2 separate regions of the Homo sapiens genome follow, and region 1 is linked to region 2. Evidence: fine-mapped expression QTL. A gene starts in region 2. The other region holds a variant in brackets. All regions are shown on one strand. Distances are from middle to middle. Region 1 overlaps ZNF292 (zinc finger protein 292). Region 2 holds the start of SMIM8 (small integral membrane protein 8).

The links. PIP is the estimated chance that this variant, and not a neighbour inherited with it, causes the effect.
Region 1: its variant is fine-mapped to the expression of SMIM8 in prefrontal cortex (BrainSeq, PIP 0.95).

The regions. Positions count from the first base shown.
Region 1 is chr6:87,261,142-87,264,065 of GRCh38, forward strand. ZNF292 (zinc finger protein 292) reads left to right here. Exons shown (of 8, transcript NM_015021.3): 8 at 1-2,924. The coding sequence ends at 660. Among named protein-coding and RNA genes, the nearest start is that of SMIM8, 60 kb to the right of the region's middle. The variant G/GT (reference allele first, on the strand shown) is at 1,369.
Region 2 is chr6:87,321,085-87,324,008 of GRCh38, forward strand. It overlaps SMIM8 (small integral membrane protein 8), which reads left to right and starts at 1,504. Exons shown (of 4, transcript NM_001042493.3): 1 at 1,504-1,548. It overlaps GJB7 (gap junction protein beta 7), which reads right to left. Exons shown (of 3, transcript NM_198568.3): 2 at 1,782-1,959. RefSeq lists a silencer at 1,326-1,615.

The DNA.
Region 1 (2,924 bases), 60 kb before region 2:
AATACTTCTTCAAATGTAAGTAATGATTTTCAGGAAGATAACCTCTGCCAGTCAGAAAGACAAAAAGCAAGTAATTTGAAGAGAGTTAATAAGGAAAAAAATGTCTCACAAAATAAAAAAAGGAAAGTTGAAAAAGCTGAACCAGCATCAGCAGCTGAGTTAAGTAGCGTGCGTAAAGAAGAAGAAACTGCTGTTGCCATTCAAACCATTGAGGAGCATCCTGCATCTTTTGACTGGAGCTCTTTTAAGCCAATGGGATTTGAAGTATCATTTCTGAAGTTTCTTGAGGAGTCTGCAGTGAAGCAGAAGAAAAATACTGACAAAGACCATCCGAATACTGGAAACAAAAAAGGATCCCATTCAAATTCAAGAAAAAATATTGATAAGACTGCTGTGACTAGTGGAAATCATGTATGTCCTTGTAAAGAAAGCGAAACGTTTGTACAGTTTGCCAATCCATCACAGCTTCAGTGCAGTGATAATGTAAAAATTGTTTTAGACAAGAATCTTAAAGATTGCACTGAGCTTGTCTTAAAGCAACTTCAGGAAATGAAACCTACCGTCAGTCTGAAAAAACTTGAAGTACATTCAAATGATCCAGATATGTCTGTTATGAAAGATATCAGTATAGGTAAAGCCACAGGCAGAGGTCAGTACTGATAATTAATGTAGTATAAATACATCATTTACCATTTTATTTTAAATAGGAAGCCATCAAGCATGCTAGAATTGTGAAACTTTCATTATATTTTTTTGTTGTTGACATGAATTAACCTGGCCAAAAACAAAAAAGAAAAAAAAAACATGACATTTGTCATGTAAAACTTTTTTTTATCCCTATGGGACTTGAGGAACAGAATCAGTACTTCAGTTATTGTAAATAGTGAGCTAAACCTCAAATTTCTATCACCCAGTTGCCCTTTTCATGAACTAAACAATTATCTGTGTGATTGGTATGTTTCACCAGGTCACTGCTCATGTATAACAGTACTCTTTATTTGTAGATACCTTTTTTGTATATATTTATTATTGTAAATCATGTGCTGCCACCAGCAGTCTGTAAGTCTAAACTATTAAATGACACATTTATATTTGGAATTTTAATTTTTAACTAAGCGATCAAGTTTTTTAAATTGTTCTTTTATTGTTTTAAATTAAGAACTTTTTGAACTAAAACCAGAAACTCTGCCATAGTTCATTGATTTTTACATGAAACATTTATTTACAAGATGATATCAAGATTACTTTTCACAAAATAGGCACATTATATCAACACTTTGCTCTGCTTTGTAAATTTGCCATCCAGGATTTTGGGGTGGTATTCATGTGAAATTAAAGCAGATTCTCTAGCAGTTTCCTATAGCTACA[G/GT]TTTTTTTTTTTCATTGCTTCTAATTGGATATAGTTACTATGAGTCCATGAAATACAATGGAAATGTGAATAAAGAATTTACTACATTGAAGATTTTAAACATTTGGTATTAAAAAAAAATCCTTTGTGAATGTGATAGAAAACTAGTAGTGTGGAGCAGTGTAAATATTTGAGGTGGTGATTTGTGAAGTAGCCCAGTATTGCCTTAAATAAAATCACATTTCATTTCTTGTTTTATACATGTGATCTTATAAAGATTTTTTGTTTTGTTTTGTTTTCCATTTTCTGAGATTTATAGATTGGTGTATAGCTTTAAACTGTATAAAGTTTTGTGGAAAGATTTTTTTAAACATTTTTATAAATCTTAAAATTGATATCATCAAAGTGAGCCCATCTTGTGTTTATAAAATACAAGAGTCCTTAACATTTATAATTACATAGATAAAACACTTTCTATAAGGAAGTTGGATGTTTTGATTTTACTGTTTATAGATGTTAGATTGTACAGATTTGTCTGTATTTCTCACCATATCTAATGATACTTTTTTCATTAGATTGGTCTTCAAGAACAGTATTAGTTATAATTATTTTGGTTATTCAGTATATAGTTAGCTCTTACAGTTTAGCTTTATTCACCATATTTATACTGTGGATTCACAGCGAGAGGTAGAGGTTATTCCAGGAGAGTTGATGACCTTCATTTAAAGTCCAACTAAAATCAGTAGTAGAAACATAAGAAAACATCTTTGCAATATTTACTTTTGTTTCTGTTTGCCGTAAATAGTAACATTGTTTTTTTTTATTTTGTGTTTGTTATAAAACAGTTGCATTCACAATATTATTGGCCTGAGATATTGATGATATTGTGATGGTATGAAAATGTGTACATTCCCTGTGCAACATCAGATTTGCAGGAAAAATGAAGCACTTACTGAAATCGCTGGTACTCTGAATAAATAAGCATGGTCAAGGAGTGAACTATTTTCTTTTGGAAATTTCTTTTTAATTTTTATTATTAAAGTATTTTATTTTTAGGGCCTTTTGGGTTTTATTGAATAGTTCATTTCACCTGTTTAAGACTTACTACCAATAAGCATAAAACCTGACACGTTAAAATCCCTGCCCTTTGGTGAGCCCACTGTTATTTATTAAAATAAAAGTTATTTTATGGGTGATTAATACATGGGTTTTCTTTTTCCTAAATTAACAATAATTTAAATAACTGAGTAATTTTAATATTAAATTTTTGTTAACAACTGAATGTTTCCATACAGTTTTCTTAGAAATTGACCTAGCTCTTAAAGGTGGGCACTTGGCAAAACTGCCCTATATAGCACAGTAGCAAGTAGGTTTATTTCTGATCATTGTAACTATGAGCCACTGTTAAGTGAAAATGCCAATGTATTGGGGCTTTTCTTTTGCTCATTAGCTTAAGAAAATTTATAACTAGACATTTCTAATTGTTTTACATGTCATGGGGAAGAGTTTGCCAACATTTAATGAAATTTTTATATTCCAGGTAATGTATACTAAAGGTAATTATGAGAGTGGGCTTT
Region 2 (2,924 bases):
GGCATACACCTGTAGTCCCAGCTACTCGGGAGGATGAGGCAGGAGAATTGCTTGAACCCAGGAGGTGGAGGTTGCAGTGAGCCGAGATCATGCCACTGCACTCCAGCCTGGGTGACAGAGTGACACTCCGACACTCCATCTCAAAAAAAAAAAAAAAAAAGATCTAGTAAGGGAAAGAGATTTTCTATAGAATGTAAGTTTTCCCCAACAAGAGACAGCTTTGCGAGGCCATTTCAAAATAGTCAAATAAATATATTTTGGGGTAACATATTTTTATTTCTTTCAGGTCCCACTATGTGTCACGTGATGTTATTCCAGAGTCAGGTTGGAATTTTCTTATTGCTACAGTATATTTTACCAGTCTTACGATCTCCGTTTTAATGTTAATGCTGGTCAGTTGTGTCTAACCTCCAACGGGAGGAAGGTATAATGAGGCATATCCAACCGCCCACCCCTTCCCATCAGGGCCTGAACTCATTTTTCAGGGTTTTTTTGAGATTACCTTGGCCAAGACAGAGGTCCATTCCTTTCAGGGGTGGGTTGGTGATGGTGGTGCTTAGAATTTTATTTTTGGTTTTTGTATTAGTCTCTTCTCACACTGCTAGAAAGAACCACCTGAGGCTGGGTAACTTATAAAGAAAAGAGGTTTCATTAGCTCACAGTTCCACAGGCTGTACAGGAGGTATGGCTCCAGAGGCCTCAGGAAACTTACAATCATGGTGGAAGAGGAAACAAGCACGTCTTACCGTGGTGCAGGAGAGAGAGAGAAAGAGAGAGAGTGTGAAGGGGGAAGTGCTACACTCTTATAAACAAACATCTTCTGAGAACTCCATCATGGGAATGGCAAGGGGGAAGTCGGCCCCATGATTCAGTGACCTCTCACCAGGCCCCTCCTTCAACACAAGGGGGCTATTATTCCATATGAGATTTGGGTGGGGACACAGAGCCAAACCACATCAGTTTTCACGTGTATCCCAACAAACTTAAACATCAGCAAAGTATGTGCAAACCAGCATCCCTATATCTATTCTTGTCTCAACTGCACCTGCATACATCCTGCATCTTGGACTCTCAAGGCCCTAACGTAATGGCAGAGTATTAACTCTACACTTAAATGACTGTTCCCCTAAAGTAGGGGTAGGAAGAAATCAGATCTAGCTTTCTTTCCCAAATCAGAATGCTTTCCACTTTCATGAAATAAACATACTTCTAGGAGATGTCTCCTTTTATTTATACAAACATACACACCGAACTGGAACGTAATTTGAAGTTGGGAGGTGGAAAACTAAAGGTCAAAAAGGGAAGAAAGCAAAAACGTCCCTTGCACACTTCAGCCCGCAGACCCCAAGGAGGGGCGCGAGGTCCTCAGAACCGGAAAGGCTAGCACTGGATGGGTCCCCGCAGCCCCGCGCCGCTGCGCCGCAGCCTCCGGAAGACAGGGGACGCTGTGGCGCCGGGCGGGGCGCCCTCCGCCGCTCTCTCTAGCAGGCGGGGCGGCGAAGCGGGGCGGGGCGTCTCGGGCGAGGAGAGGAGGTGACCCCGCGAAAGGTAAGCGGCGGCTTCGGTGGTGTTGAGTGGCTGGGCGCCGGCCTGGAGGGGCCAGGGCGGCCGCACCATCACGCTCCCGTCTCTGCCCTTCCCAGCTGCCCTGCCGGTCTCCCTCCCAGGGAGGGAGCGTCCTCTCGGATAGCCCAAATCTTTGCCTCTCCGTGGACTCCCTGTACCCGCACCCCAAGTCGGTGAAGCTCTCTGGCCCCACAGAGCCCATTTCCCGTACTCACCTTGCGGGCTCCAGTTTGTTCGGTGCTTCATCCATGGACACCCCCACCCCGAGAACTCTCTCGTTTCCTGCAGTTTCTTAGTGTCTTGGCTCACCAGACTCATAGGGGAACATGGTGGTGTTTTGAGGAGACGCCGCTTTTCTTTTGTCATAGTGCGGACACTCGTGCTTTTTCAGCCCTGCAACACAATGTGTAGAACTTAACGGAATGAAGTTTTCTTTTGGAGGCTTCCAATGCGTCTGTCTTTGAGTAAGCCTTCGGCACCGAACAGTAGTCCATGACATTGGGGGAAGCCAGATGAGACTCAGATTGTCAGTACTCAGGCTGTCGCCAGCAAAGCCTTTCCCCTTTTTTCAGAGACAGTACTACATCCAAGAGGTGGAAAGATACTTTTGTTTTGTTTTGTTTATTTATTTATTTGTTATTATTATAAGTTTTAGGGTACATGTGCACAATGTGCAGGTTAGTTACATATGTATACATGTGCCATGCTGGTGCGATGCACCCACCAACTGGACATCTAACATTAGGTATATCTCCCAATGCTATCCCTCCCCCCTCCCCCCACCCCACAACAGACCTCAGAGTGTGATGTTCCCCTTCCTGTGTCCATGTGTTCCCATTGTTCAATTCCCACCTATGAGTGAGAATATGTGATGTTTGCTTTTTTGTTCTTGCGATAGTTTACTGAGAATGATGATTTCCAATTTCATCCATGTCCCTACAAAGGACATGAACTCATCATTTTTTATGGCTGCATAGTATTACATGGTGTATATGTGCCACATTTTCTTAATCCAGTCTATCATTGTTGGACATTTGGGTTGGTTCCAGGTCTTTGCTATTGTGAATAATGCCGCAATAAACATACGTGTGCTTGTGTCTTTACAGCAGCATGATTTATAGTCCTTTGGGTATATACCCAGTAATGGGATGGCTGGGTCAAATGGTATTTCTAGTTCTAGATCCCTGAGGAATCGCCACACTGACTTCCACAATGGTTGTACTGGTTTACAGGCCACCAACAGTGTAAAAGTGTTCCTGTTTCTCCACAGCCTCTCCAGCACCTGTTGTTTCCTGACTTTTTAATGATTGCCATTCTAACTGCTGTGAGATGGTATCTCATTGTGGTTTTGATTTGCA